Linked DNA regions of Homo sapiens: region 1 is linked to region 2. A link means that fine-mapping ties the variant in region 2 to the expression of a gene that starts in the linked region. Tissue or cell type: cerebellar hemisphere. Region 2 holds a variant in brackets; the other region holds the start of a gene. All regions are shown on one strand. Distances are between the middles of the regions.

Region 1 (7,801 bases), 480 kb after region 2:
CTTTTGCACCAACCTAATATGATTTAAACACTGTTGTTTACCCGTTTCCTTCTTCCATTTTAATATTCAATTCTTTCAGTCCAAATAGACAACGTTCTTCAATGCCCAAGTTGCATAGCAGGCTTCGGACACTAGATCTAAATCCAGTCAAGACCCAAACCCTTCATTTTAAAGAAGACATCAAGTTACAGAAAGATTAAGTAATTTGCCCAAGGTCACACAGCTGGTTAGGAACACAGTGGAATTAGGACCCAGTGTCCAGGCTGACTTTTCCAGAATATAATTTCTTTATTCTATTTCTGACATTGCTTAAAGTGAGCAAACTCATATGATTTCTCAATATAAAAATTTGAAAGTCTTAAAAATGATACTAATCATTTGGTCTTCATTAACACACTGACTTAAATATCTTTCCAAAATCTGTCACAAATACAGTGTCCCCTTCTCCCAATGCAACCCATTTTTCAGAAGCCTTCCCTTCAGTAAGTTCGCCAAGACTTCAATACACAGAAAGCTCTCTGCCCTAAAAATAATCTTCGAATTCAACATGTTACCAAAATAAAATCTTCCAAATAAAACAATGGCAAAGATAGACCTGATAATGAATATGAAATATGCTAAGAACATTCTGTCACTGAAATAAACTTGACTTTTTTTGTGATTAATAGTAAGATGCAATCTTGAAACACATAAGAATAAAGCAAACGACAACAGAAGAGAAATGATGTAGAAAGGGTCCCATTTGAAATTTACCCATTTGAAAACAGGCTCTGTCTTTTGGCTATCATCATTGTGTGCCTGTCCAGAAATTCATTTCCAAGTTTTATTTCCAAATGCAACCCCAAATTCAAAATGTGAGTGTGTTGGCATGTTCAAAAATTGCTCTGAGATGGACAAAACAACAAATGAGATGCTTTCAGGAGGAATAATAAGTACATTCCAACACTCATTGGGTTTAATTCATACTTCAGATATCGGCCTTCCCCTTCTAATTCTTTTGTATCCTGTTTCTATTAGGAAATGGAAAATAAGGAAATAGGATTATGAAGCCATTTCTAAATATTAACGTGATACCAAAGGAAGTTAGCAAAGATACACACATTTTCAAGGAAAAGGATAGAAAGGGAAATTGGCTTGAGTCCAGTCTGTCAGAAATGGTGACTGATCAGAGTTTAGCTAAATCTAATCAAGCCATCAGGACCTACACTGCATTTACTGACAGGTAGGGGCACTGAGAGAGGGCAGGTCATATTAGAACAATGCTTGGAAGAGGAATAAGCACTACCTGTTGAATAGGAGAATTGGCTTTGTTACCTTAAGATTTCAATAATCTACTGGATTCCTAGAGAATCCATTCATCAAATTAACATAGTGGTGGTAGTATGGAGGGAGGTGGAACAAGAGAGAGAAGGGGGAGGAAGGGAGGGAGGAGAAAGAAAGGAAAGGACATAAGAAATACTGTTATTAAATATTTCATTTCTAGATTAAGCCAGGAAGAGCATTTACCAAAACATGCAAATTATTATTCATGAACTTACATTTTACTCAAAAGATAAAATGGCAAGAATACATAGGAACTAGCAAAGCAAACACAGGAATCCATAGGAGAAACATACAACAATCCATAGGAAAAAAATACATAGCATTCACAGCCAGAGAGTGGACAATACAATTGCTCATATACCAAAGCAGCTTTGCTTTCTTTCTAAGTATTGCTGAAAGAACTTGGTATGACTTTATTTTTTTAAGAGTTTGAAATGTGCTCAATATCTGAAGTCTCAGAAGATAGCTATGATCTTTCAAAAATACAGATGTCATTTGGGAAAAAAGTTCTCCAGTAAGGTTCCATCCTGTCTTTTAGATATTGAAAAAATGGGAAGGACACACAGTAATGCACTTTATTCAATAAATTATTACAAAGCATCACTTTAATAAAGGATGGTAAGATTGAGCTGTATGCCAATGAAAGTATGGCTGTAGCATTAACAATGTCTCCTGAAAGTATGGACAGCACTTTCAGTTAAAAAAGATGACAGAACTCACTCTCCTAAAAAGACAGAGCTTCTTCTAAAAGAAGTACCTCAGGTAGGTACTTCTCTGCTGGTTTTGTGACTAGTAAATGAATAACATTCTCCATTTAAAAAAAAACTAGCATATTAATTAATCATATATGGAGAGTGATAGTCACCTATCTGTCAAGAAGAGTTAAAAAGCATTATTTTGGGTTAAAGCTGATACATGACTTTAACTGAAAAAATGTTTCTCATTGCACTTCGAATTACTGGAGTTGAATTCTTTCAGGGAGACTTAGATATGCCCATTCTTTGCCCCTGACTCTTGATTCACTAGTGATTCTGGAGAAAATGTACACCAATTTGTTAATTCTCTGGCCTCATTCTTTTTCTTGCCCTATCACACATGTTGTTACAACACAGCAAAAACACACATATCCAAGGAAAAGTCTCTTCTACTACCCATACCCAAACCTGCCTTTCCTCCTAAATAGTCCCTAGGGAAGCAAGCCATCGCCATGACAACCATATGATGGGAGTTTGAACAGCACTTGGGGCAGCCTTTGTTGAAAGTTAATACCAGTTGGTGTTTAACAAGAAAAGGAAAACTCAGGCAAGGGGTAATACTCTGTTGTGAGGCACCACTTAGCTGTATGGAACTAACTGTCCCCATCAAATCTTACCTAACCAGAACACATCCTCAGAACAAAATTCTCCAAGTGTAACGTATTCAGGGCTAATTCATTAATTCTCCATTGTAGCCCACTGGACTCAATGCTCTGTGGTCACTAAATCAAAAGAGCATACATACTCAGGAAAAGAGAATTAAGAACTTTGCCTTTTTTAACTTCGAATGGATATAGAACATCAGAGATATTTATTTTTCCCTATTAAGTATTACCACCTTCTATTTACTGGGCAAAAATGCTTGTTTCCTGCACCTTTAAATCTAATTTGTGTTTTCCCCCCTACAAGAAAGATCATGAAGGTGGATTAGTACAGAGTTGTATGGACTTTTTCAGTATCTTTAATGCATTTGCTTCTGGAAAGAGAAGCGCTGCAGACACACGGTGGCAATTCCTGCTCAGGTGTAGTGCCATTCTTTTGTGTGACTCACAGCTAGAGAGAGAGCTGACATTCAATATATGTTTAACAATACTTTCCCACTACTGATTCCACTCAGGAGACTCACATTTTTATGCCTTTTCTAAAAACAAGGACACAAAAAAAGTCACTGTCTGAGGAGGCTCATTCTTTGTTCATCTTCACCTGACTGGCCACCTAACTACACAAAGCTTTTAAACTAATGAGGAGAATCCTTTGTTCTCTCTGGTTCCATTTAAAGGGAAAGTGGGTCGAAGGGCTTCCCCAGGGAGAGAGAAAGAAAAGCCCAGGAGCCAAACACAAGGGAGTAAGAGATTTCACTCCCACTACTATTCCCACCCTCCCAAAGAAGTTAATTAATTCTGTTTTAGGAATGGTTAAAAGGGGTGGGGGAGCACCAGGTAGCCCATTCTCTGAGACCAAAATCTCCTTCTCGAGTGTGGTTCGCACCAGCCTCTTGTCTCTGACACCACGGGGTGTGGGTGGGGGGCGTGGGGGGAGGGCAGGAGTACTGAGAACCTCTCTCCAGCCACGGACCACAGAGCCAGTACTGCATGCATTTAGGCTCCCCCAAAGGTGCGTCCCAGCCCAAGTCCCCAAGTTGGGTATTTAAATCTAAAAAGCACAATTAGCGCCATTCAAAGCTGCAAGTTACAGTACCTTCAGAAGTCTGACAGATGGAAGAAAGGCTGCGTGGCACAGCTTCCGGATGGTCCAGTTTAGGGGTCGAGGAGCATCAGCCTGATTCATGACCCCTTCCAAATTCCACCAGGAAAACAAGAAACTGAAAACCTGAGCAATGCCTAGAAAATAAACGGTCCCCCACGGCTCTGGCATCCCATGGTCATCTCCACACCTGCAAATTCCATTAGGGCAGAGGCTTCCTGGAACTTGGAAGACTAGTCAAGTAGCCTTGCCTGAGCCCCTGAACCTTCTTAAAACAGCCACCTCCCCTCTCTCTGCAGCCGTGCTCATGCATACCAAATGTGGCTGAATGGAGGCACACTGCCTGCTGCTTCGGGGAGGGGATGCACGATTTTGAAGAAGAGGGACAGCCTGCACAAAACAGCCTGTGGTCGGAGTCAAAGCAGCCTGCTCCAGAATGCGCGCTCCCTCTCCCGCTCTCCTCCCAGTAAACGCAGGTCAGGCGTTGGGGGGGAACCGGGGCCATTGCTTTGCTAGCTTGGTTTGGGGGGGAGCCAGGAGGATCGCAAAAGGGAACAAAAATGAAGCCAGAACGGGAAACTTGCACTTTCTTGCACAAAGCATCTTTGAGGGACTGAGAACTGGTACGGGGGGAGGGGTGAGGACACAGGGAGAGAAGGGGTGCCTCCGAATGATGAGATAAATGCTTCCCTTTTGATTTATGTGACATAATAAAGTGAGGCTATCATCAAATACATCTATAGTAAAAGAGATCTGTGTCGTGTTCTGAGGTTTTTATTAACCGTGATTGACAGTCTTCATCCTGATAATCGGTTGCATAGATGACAGACACTGAGACAGAAGCAAACTCAAACACACTGGGTTGTTCCTTTCATACAAAGCAGTTTAAACTCATGGGCATTTGGCTCACCTTTTAGAGATGGCAGTTTTTAAATGGGGGTTATCTCCTGGAAAGCCACTTGATACCGCTTCTCTGCAACACAAGTTTAACCCATAAAGTGCCACATGGGATGCTGTCTATAAAGAATGGATTTTCCTCAAGTGGGGTGTCCACCCCCATCATTTTCTAAGGAGGCTGTATGAAATAGTTGCTGAGTTGGAATGTATAGTCTTTAGGACTCCTGTGGTGAGAGAGAGAATTAAAGGACAGTTTTTCAATTTGAAGGTAGAAATTGGATAATTTCACATAGTAAGTTGGGACGGTGAGATGAGAAGGGAGTTCCTGACACAACCCCCCTTCGGCTCCCATGTACCCCCAGGCATCGGACCTCAGTGGGAGCAGTTGACCTGACAACTCCTATGGGGAGAATCCCCACATCCTTGGAGCATCGCCATCTTATTTATTTTTTCCTCTGTGACCATGCTGATTTTCCATTTCTAATTAACTTGAAGAGATTGGTAAATCCCAGCTCCATGACTATTATGCAGTCAGAGCTGAACTGGGAGTGGTGCAAGCAGATGTGATACACTGCTGTAATTCAGAACCGGGACAACACAGGCCCACCCCAGCATGAAATCAATACCTGACACACTGCGCTACAACACCATTTCACTCACAATGGTCTTGTGTCAAAAATTTAAGAAAGATATTGCAGAAAACTAGTCCACGGGTGGAAGGCAGACCATTGACCTACCTCGTATAGTAAAATTTATGTCTCTGATTATCTACCAAACAATATCACTTTAATAGATCTCATACACAGCTGATTCATTTTCTGTTACTATTCTATTTCCACAAAGGATTGAAGGCAGTATTAAAATAATAACGGCTCACATGTATCACCTAGCACAATGCATTGCATAGGTTTATGCCCATGTCAACCTTATGGAGTAGGTGTTATGGTCATTTTCTTATCTCACAGATTAAGCAAGTGAGGTCCAGAGAAATTAGTAACAAGTCTAACATACTAGTATAACTGGAATCTGGATTGAAACCAGTCTACTAGGCTGTAAAGACAAGCTTTCTCTTGTCTCCTATTTCTTTCAAAAGGGACTTCAGGAATAAAACCACTGCCTCTGTTTTTTGGTAATTTAATCTTACATAAGAGTTAAAGACTTTAAAGAAGAAACGCTCAGCATTTCTTTCAGATTATTACTTTGGTCTGATGTTGATGTATTAGTTAACAGCATGAATTCTGGAATCAAGCTGCATGGTTCAAATTCCAATTTTGAAGCTAGTCTTGGGAGATTTACGTACCTTCTTTGTGTCTTGGAGTCCTTATCCGTACAATGGAGATTAAAATAAACCCTTATGCCTATGGTTGTTGTGAGGACTAAATAAGCTAATATTGGCAAAGCACTTAGAACAGTGCCTGGCATATACTAAATACCTGTACCATGATCCATCTTCTGGGTAGCATGTGCTGATTCTGAGCTGGAAGCCCACTGACAATTTTCATTAAGCATGCATACATATGGTAGTAGGTAATGAAGTCAAGCAAGACAAATTAAAACTGAATGCTTCTTGTGAGTTACTATGAGTTTAATAAATGGGGTAAAGAGGAAGGTGGGAGACTGCAAGGGCAGCGTGGTTTTCCTCATGCAGTGTGGTATTCATCCAGTTGCGAGATGCTGCCTTTAGTGGGGAAGGCTCCAGCCTTTCTAAGCTTTTAAATGAACGCCCTTAAGTGGTTCTGTTGAGGTGGTGAGATCTCTGCTCCATGAAAATGCTGAAAAACTGCAATTGCCTACCCCCTGCCCTGCAGTATTTCAAAATGCTAAGGACCCCACAAAAATGACAGCATCATTCTGAAAACACATGGCCTTTGATCCTATCCCCTTTAATTTTACTGAATAACTTTGGTCAAAGAGAACTGTTAGAAACTATGCAGAGTGAGGAAGTAGGAGGATTCACAGCCCTCTCTAATGGCAATTAGAGGAGAAAAGCACAAAACCTTCAGGGAATTGATTTGGAGATTACACTGCAAAAGAGGTAAAAGATCAAAGAAGGATGACAGTGCATGAGAGGCAGTTTTTCTTCCATCACTGGGGACGCTTTGTGCCAGAATTGTTTGCTATCAAAACATCTAAAGAAGGGTTTTCAAGACCCTTCTCTCTACTTTCAAGAAATTATATTTTCACATAGAAGATGCCTTCCCCAGTTTTAGAGAGAGGTCTAATGAGAAAAAAAAAAAAAAGCAGAGAGGAGCAAGCCCAGCCCCAGATATTAGCATCTCACAAATTCAAAGTGCTTACTTATAAATCTTATGAATGTAGATGTCTACATATCTGCAGAACAAATTCTAGCAGGCTTAAAACTCTGAAATAATCATACTAGCTTTCAGTATCCTAAAAAATAGCAAGCAGGGCATATCAGATTTCTGTATTCCAAAGCCTGCCTTTGAGCCAACTCTAATTCTCTCCCGTGCTACAGAAAAGCCCACTTTCCACTGATTATCTTCCCTTTTTATTTTCTGTGTAAATGATACGAAACCAAAGAATCATGATGAAATTTGAGCTCATTCTCAATACTGACAAGGCGGCCATTGTATAGCCCTTCTGAATTCTTTCTTTTGAAGACCACGTTCCTTCTCTTCAAAAGTCATAGCACCCTCAATATAGTATTGTACCACTTTGCACCCTGTCTTCTTTATATCTTTTGGATGTAAAAGGAGCTGACCCATGAAAACCTAAGAAAACAAAAAGGAAATGACACAGTGACCAGGTAGTACAGAGAACTCAAAAGCCTCCCTCTGAAATGTGTTTTCTGCAAACAACACTAAAATAACAGTGTTGCAATGTAATTTTTCAGAGTTTATTATTACAACATTAAAATTCATAGGTATCTGGACATCAATTGTACATATATTTTCAGGCTCTAATATATGGATGTAGTGCACCTAGTGCAGAAGGATGATATTTAAGCAACCAGGGGAAAAACCAGGAACAAGCCCAGTGGTGAGCCTTTGTAGACACTTTCGTTTGCTTCAGTGTTTTGTAGTCTTAATATTAACGTCTTGCTTGCTTAATGATTGGCCTCTTTTATTAATTTTGTTGTGCTTTGAATTTTCTTTTTTAAA
Region 2 (7,801 bases):
GTGAAATAAGTTGCCATTCTATTGTCTTTCAGGAATAGGAATGTCAGATAAAATCCAAGATGCCTAATTAAATTTGAATTTCAGATAAACAATGTACAATTTTAATCTAAGTATGTCCCATGCAATCTTTGGGATATAACAAAATTGTCTGTTGTTAATCTGAAATTCACATTTAACTGGGCATCCTGTATTTTATTTGCTAAATCTGGTGAGATGATTAGATAATCTAAAATAGTGATGGCTTTTTTTTTTTTTTTTAGTTAGTCTCGCTCTGTCACCTGGGCTGGAGTGCGGTGGTGTGATCTCAGCTCACTGCAACCTCCACCTCCAGGGTTCAAGATATTCTCCTGTCTCAGCCTCTGGAGTAGCTGGGATTACAGATGTGCACCACCATGCCCAGCTAAATTTTGTATTTTTAGTAGAGACGGAGTTTCATCATGTTGGCCAGGCTGGTCTCAAACTCCTGACCTCAAGTGATCCATCCGCCTTGGCCTCCCAAAGTGCTGGGAGGCCACTGCGCCCAACCAATGGCAAATTCTTAAGCACTGTTGCAACCATTCAAGTATTGAGACAGGTCTATGAAATGCGGCAACGACCTGCCCATTCATGTGGACGTGCCCATCAGAGCTCTTTTTCCACTGAGGGGATGCTGGATTGTGCAGTGATTTAGCCTACAGACTCTGGAGTCAGAGTGCCTGGCTCTACACCTCTGCTGCTTACTGGCTCTGAACGTGGGCAAGCAACTTAACTGTGACTCAGTTTTATCATCTTTAAAATGGGAATGACAGTATCACTTTATCTGATGGGGTTGTTGTGAGGATTAAATGATATAATGTTTATAAAGCTATTAAAAATGGTGCTTAATGCCAATTAGTGTTAGCTATTATTATTACTGAGGCTATTTACTGTTCCATAATCCTCAACAAAGTATTCCGGGAAGCCACCACCAGCAGACTGAAGTGATCAAACTTACTGGCCTTCCTCAGTCTAGAATTTTCCTACCCACCCCCACTCCCCAGTCTTTGGAATAAATTACTCCCTTGATTCTCTAATTGATAGACCATTCAATGCTTGTCTTTATTTATTTATTTTTTTTAATTGAAAACCCATTATTCTTCCTGAAAGTCTCAGTATGCTGAACCAAGAAAAGTCTCTGGAGAAAACAGAGACTAGGAGACATTCTGCTAACCCGTTTCTATTTTTTGCAGATGGTGCCAGCGTGGCACCATCTAACAACTACTACTGGCTGGGGACAGGAAATAAGCTCCATCCTGCTTGCCCTCTGCGTGATGGGACAGAGGCATTGTGAAAAATGAGGGGTAGAATAATCTTAGAGACAGAAGCTTGGGTTCGGTACTTACTGGCTTTCTTAGGAGTTTTGTGACCTTGAATTCACCTTGGCCTCTGCTATGGTTTGAATGTTTGTGTCCTCTCCAGAATTCATGTTGAAAGTTAATTTCCAATGTACTAGTATTAAGAAGTGGGGCCTTTAACGTGTATACCTGTGTAATGAACCTGCACGTTCTGCAAATGTATCCCAGAACTTAAAGTATAATAATAATCACAATAATAATAATAGAAAAGAAGTGGGACCTTTGGGAGGTGATTAGGTCCTGAGGGTTCCTCCTTTGTGAGGGGGATTAAGGCCATTATAAGAGAAGCTTCACACAACATTCAGGCCTTTTGCCCTCTGTCTCTTCTGCCTTGTGAGGACACAGCATTTGTCCCTTCTGGAGAATGGCAAAACAAGGTGCCATTTTGGAAGCAAAAAGCAACCTTCGCCAGACACTGAACTTGCCAGAGCCTTGATTTTAGACTCTCCAGCCTCCAGAACCCAGAGAAATAAATTTCTGTTGTTTATAAATTACTGAGTCTAAGGCATCTTATTATCATAGTACAAATGGACTAAGACAGCCTCAGTTTCCTCATTTGGTAAATGGGGAAAAATTTCTGCTCTTTAAACTTCACTGGATTTTAGTATGAGCTCAGAGCCAATGCACTTAACTCATGTGAATGCTCTCAATAACTTCATAAACAGTAGTTTTACCTATGATTACTCCTTGGTATCCCTAGTGAGTAAATTAACAAATCATTACTAAGCTAAAAAACAAAACAAAACAAAACCAAAATTTTTGAGTGACTCAAAAAAGAGATATTTTACCTTTTCTTCCACTTTATAGCTGAACTATGAAGAATGAACTTCATAGCTCTGAGGATAAAAAATGGCGCAGGTTACTTAATCAGCCTTTTGTGATGCTTAGAGTTAAACCAACCCTCCTTTGCTAATTGCCTCTAACACCCTCTGGGCTTACAGAACAAACTGTGTTCTCATTTCCAGAGCCTTGTGGCTTTGTATAAGAATATGAGAATGATACACTTAGGTTATTACATAACTTTTTGCCTTACATGCTGACAACTGAGCAATTAAAACAAGCGGAATCTTGGTGACTTGGTGTTTGTCATCTATGTAGGTCTAAGGGAGTATTTGTGATGAATGAACCATGCATTTGGACGGGAGAAGGGAAGAGAATCACAGGCATATGGGGGGCAGGAGAAGGTAAAACAAACAGAAAAAAAAGAAAATAAAAAGTGCCTTAGTTTGGCCCTACCGTATTGTACAATTCCTCTAGTCTGGAGATGGTGAGAAAACGGTGCATGCTTACTCCATTCTCTATGAGTAATTTCACAAAATCCACTCTGTCCAGAACTAAGGCATCCAACATGGCTTGCTCCAGAGATCCCACCTGCAAACCAAGTCACTGAGTTAGTCTGCCCCAGGGTCTATCTATGGATGCAGTTCTTTAGTGTTCACTTGAACAGCTTAGAAATGGATGCCTTTGACATCTGGTAAACCTTCAGCACATCTAAGAACATGCTAGCAAGACTGTTCACAGATTCACTTTTGGGACAGCCACACCTCTCCCATGTTTGGGTGCCTGTCTTTGCAAATAGAAGTCAAGCATTTCTAGTTCCAAAAACTATTTCTTCCCTGAATCTCTTGTTCTGGATCCCAAGAAGGTGCAAGGGTTCACAAGGTTTTTCCCCTTGCAATTATCTGATTAAATTTCTCAACACCAGCGAAGTGTCAAAGGGGGCACTTTTGCTGTCTTCATTTTTGTTATCCTTAGGCTCTGAGGGAGACCCCAGGCCAACTTGAGAAGAGGGACCCAAGTCAACAGACCAAAGGCCCTAAATCAATGCTGGGTCTCTGTAGAAGCAAGACCACAAAGATGTCACTTAACTGAAAACAAAACAAAAACATAACAAAACAGAACAACCAGCCTACTTTCTGGATTTGCCAATAGCTTAGATTTTTATTTAATCCATTTCACAAAAATGTTGCAGGGTCTAGACTCTGACAAATCTTTCCATGTTAGCAATCCACCAGCACTGAATGAAGACAGGGGCTCCATCCCAGGCAGAAACTCTCTAGGGGAAAGGAAGGAGTAAGATAAGGCTTGCCGGTGAGTGCTGTGATTCCAGGCACAGAAACCGAGTTTCAGGCTGCTGGGCTGCCTCCTGTGGATGCATACATATCCCACCTGATGGCCAATCTCTCAAATTTTTATTTTTGGTAGAGTCAATTGAGGGAAGCAAACCAAGAACAGTTATATAAAGCATTGGTTTCCTCATGTTGTTCTTTGCAAATAGGGAGGACCTGTGCTCAGTCACCAGGACCAGATGGCGCCTGCAGAGGGAAGCCTGCTAATTCTGCATCCTGAGGTGTGACCCTTCCCTTTGCCCCATCAAAGACAATCAGAAGCAAATTAATAATTCTACCCCTTCCTTAATTTTAGTTAATACAGATTTGTCTTATATTTTTTCAGATGTATTCAAATAAATGGCATCATTTGCAGCTGAAAATTGCTATTAAAGACAACTCATAGAGATGGAAATATTTGGAGTTGTGTTCAGTTGAAATTTCCACTAGATGGCGGTGCTTTCCTAAATATGAGAAAGGGAGCTCAGGATACAGACTTTGCTACCAAGGAACACATTCCATCTTAAAGAAAAAGCAATCGTTTTCTGAGCTGACCTCAGAGGCTCCTTAAACAAATACCCTTG[G/C]CCAACCAAAGTGGGCTTTTCATGGGAGACGATATATACTCTACCGGCCACTGTTGCCCGTAAATAAAGATCTGGCTGCGAGCGATGTCGACTCTGTTCCAGGCTAAAGCTAAGCTCAGTTGGTCTGGGGCCGAGGCATTGGCTCCTGTGTGAGGACAAGTGGGAGAAAAGAGTGGAAGAGAGAAAACGACGATCAGTTATTACACCAAGAGCGCCTGCTCCATCCCTCTGCCATTAATGCCCCTATTCCCAAAGAGCCTGCTTGGCTATACAGCAGGTTTCTCAAACTTGGTATTATTAACATTTTGGGTAACTCTTTGTCACAGGGCTCTCCTGTATATTGTAGATTATTATTATTATTACATTTTTAAAAACTTTTTAAAAAGAAGGTCTTTGAAACTCCATGCTTTTTTGATATATAATAATTGTACATGTTTATGGTATGCATGTGATATTTTGATGCATGCATACAAGTTCATTGTAGATTATTAATAGCACGCCTTGACTGAACCCAGTAGATGTCAATAGCATTTTCCCACCCCCATCCTTCCAGACATGATGCTCAAAAATGTCTCCAGACATTGCCAAATGCCCCCATGTGTGAAGGGAGGCAAAACTGGCCTGGTGAGCAGCATTGCTCTACCGTCTGGCTAGGCAAAGTGTGGTTCACAGAGCAGCTGCAGCAGTGCCACCCTGGTGCTTCTTTGAAATGCAAGTCTCAGACCCTGTCCCCGACCCACTAAACCAGAATCCGTATTTTCACAAGATCCCAGATGACTTGTGCACACACTCAAGTTTGAGAAACTCTGCTCTACCACACATTTTGCTTCTGCTGGCCAATCACTGGTTTCAAGGCATCACTTGAATAGTATTTTGCATGGGGAGGGTGCTCTCATCAACTAGCGTACCAACTTGCCACTTTTCTGAAAAAGAGTTAGGAAGGTCTTTTAACAGAGAGGCAAACCAGCGGCTTAGGTTTACTTTGATTTGTGGGTAGAAACCATTGGAACTATTTCCCAGGTTCTTATTTTTCTCCAGATTCTGTCTCTAGAGCTGTGCGGTTCACAGGTGGCTAAGTTTAAATTAATCAAAATTAAATAAAATTAAAGTTATAATTCCTCAGTCAGGCTAGCCACATTTTAAGAACTTAATAGTTCCATGTGGCTAGTGACTACTGAACTGGAAAGCACAGATACAGAACATTTCTATCATCACAGTAAGTGCTATTGGCCCAGAGCTCATCTAGGTGAATGCATCCTGTCCATAGAGGCAGCCTGCCAAGCAGCTGGAGGGGAAGCTGGAAATGGAGGCAGTGCAGTAACGAAAGCAACATTAGGCTCCAGGCAGGGGGCCCAAGTGAGAGTCCCTGTGGCTCCTCTCAGCCACTGTTGATTATTTGTGAAATGGAGGCAATAAATATCCAGTTTACATGGCTGGGGTGTGAGACTGAAATGAGATTGTATAAGTGATTTCTGTTTAAACAGGTTTTTCACAGTTCACCAACACCCTTAGTGCACTGAGGAAGAGACACCCCTAAATAATTGCCAAGCTTCATGCTGCTGGATATCTCACGATCGGGGAGGAGGATAAAGAGACAACCTTCCTCAGCTCAGAGTTTTTAAACATCAAACATGTGCTGGGCAAAGTATTAGGCACTTCCATATGTCATATGTAACATCCCAGTTAATCTGGGGACTGGGTCTTATTGTCTCCTGTCTCATTGAAACATATGAGACTACTGAGATCCAGGGAGGTGGAACAGCCAAAGATAAAACAGCTACTAACAGGGTAAATGGAAGAAGTATTCAGCAAACTAGAGGTGAGAGTCAGATCCAGAGAATTCCTCTTCATCATTGCTGCTTCTGATGTTTAGGAAAGAAATATAGCAAATGTGTATGCTGTTCATTCCTCTGGGTTCGCCAGCAGTCAAGGCCAGAAACAATGAGGAGGTGGGGCAGGGTTCCTGGTCGTTAACTTACATCAGTGATTCCAAAACTTTGCTGCACATTAGAATCACCTGGGGAGCTTCGCTCAGGGTGCATCCCATACCAATTAAATCATGTTGCTTGGGATGGGATCCAGGCGCGGATATTTTTAAAGCTCTCCATGTGCTTCCAATGTGCAGCCAATGTCCAGAGGCTGGGAATTACTGCGCTGTGTGCCTCCTTTCCTGCTTACCCTCGCCTCTTCCCTCTGGGCTCTGAGATACTGACGTTATAAATTAGGCAAAAAATGTTTGCTAAGTGAACACTTCTCAAATTTTAGCATGCATAAGTACAATTCGGAGAACTTTTTAAGACACAGGTTCTTGGGTCCCAGCTGCAGACCTTGTGATTCAGTAGCTCTTGGGTGGAGCCTAAGGTTCTGTGTTTCTAACCAGCTCCCAGGTGAGGCCGCTGCTGCTGATCTGGGGCCATGATTTGAGTAACAAGGCCCTCAAGAGCTGTGGTGCTCTGTTCCCTTCGTAGGTTGAAGAGCATTTCTGATTCTGGTGTCCACACATTGATGGGCTTATTATCGACCACATACTTGGAGTAAATTTATTAGTGTTTACAATGATGAATATCATTTCAGCTCTCACGTGGAATTTTCCATTAAAAATTATCTCCTCAGGTAACAACAGGGACTGCACACTCATACCAGGGTAACTGGCATACACAAGTGATAAGTAGAAATGTGTCAAAATGTTCTGTCATCAATTTGGAGAGGAAAAGAAGTGAAGGCTCATTGCGATTGCATTTGGAAAGGTAGCACTTTACATGTTTCTTTGCTTCTTTAGCTGGTCTACTGGTTGGTGCTGACTTGCTGGAATAGTTTAATCATTCCCTTTGCCATTTGTATGTTGCAAATTAGTATGTCACCCAAGTCAATAATAGCAGCACGAGCCTGAACAGGAACACATAGCAGGAAGCAGTTATTGAGGTCAAGGTGAGCTACAGGCCTGAATGTAATTAGGCAAGTGTCAAATGAAAGCATGAAACCAATGAGTCTTGACTTTCAAAAATTGAAAATACATCACTCAAGAATGGCCGTGGGTGACAGTTTGGATCAGTGGTTCTCGGCTAAGGTGACCAGCCATCCAGGCTTGCCCAGTGTAGTCACAGTGTTAGCATTTAAATTCCTGCACTCTGGGAGATGTGTCAATCCTGAATAAACCTAGTGGCTGGTCACCCTATTCTCGACTATGGCTGTGCACTTGGAATTGCCTAAAGAGCTTTAAAATATACTCATGCCTGGGGCACAGCCCCACAGATTCTAGTTTAATTGGTCCTGGGCATTGCGGTTTTTAAAAGTTCCCCAATGATTCTAATGTGAGGATAAAATTAAGAACTTCTAGTGTAGATAGCATATGTTCATTCATTCACTCATTCATCTGTTCATTTACTTATGCGTTCAAAGATACTGATTTCATGCCTCCTTATATGGGAGGCAGTATGCCAGCATGAGGACCGAGACATATAAAGCAGAATACTTTGTCTTGAGAGCTTACAGTCTAGAGGAGAAGAGAAGTCTGTAATTAAATACATTATTTCATGCAGTAATTCATTTATCTCATCAACAGATATTTATTGAATACTCTCTCTGCTGGGAACTGATTTGTCATTGAACGTCCAATGACAAACAAGGTAGCTAAGGTCAACCTCTTCACAGAGCTTACATCCTACTGGTGGTGGGGAAGTACTCGGAAGTAAGCAAATAAACTCATGAACAGCATACTTTCAGATTGTAGAAGTGC

The links. PIP is the estimated chance that this variant, and not a neighbour inherited with it, causes the effect.
Region 1: TRPM3 starts here. The variant in region 2 is fine-mapped to the expression of TRPM3 in cerebellar hemisphere (GTEx, PIP above 0.99). The same link has a PIP of 0.9 or more in cerebellum.

Annotation. Positions count from the first base shown.
Region 1 is chr9:71,117,402-71,125,202 of GRCh38, forward strand. It overlaps TRPM3 (transient receptor potential cation channel subfamily M member 3), which reads right to left and starts at 4,220. Exons shown (of 26, transcript NM_001366145.2): 1 at 3,777-4,220. The coding sequence starts at 3,953. RefSeq lists an enhancer at 3,028-3,865.
Region 2 is chr9:70,636,451-70,644,251 of GRCh38, forward strand. It overlaps TRPM3 (transient receptor potential cation channel subfamily M member 3), which reads right to left. Exons shown (of 26, transcript NM_001366145.2): 10 at 4,110-4,210; 11 at 2,610-2,744. Among named protein-coding and RNA genes, the nearest start is that of MIR204, 170 kb to the right of the region's middle. The variant G/C (reference allele first, on the strand shown) is at 4,066.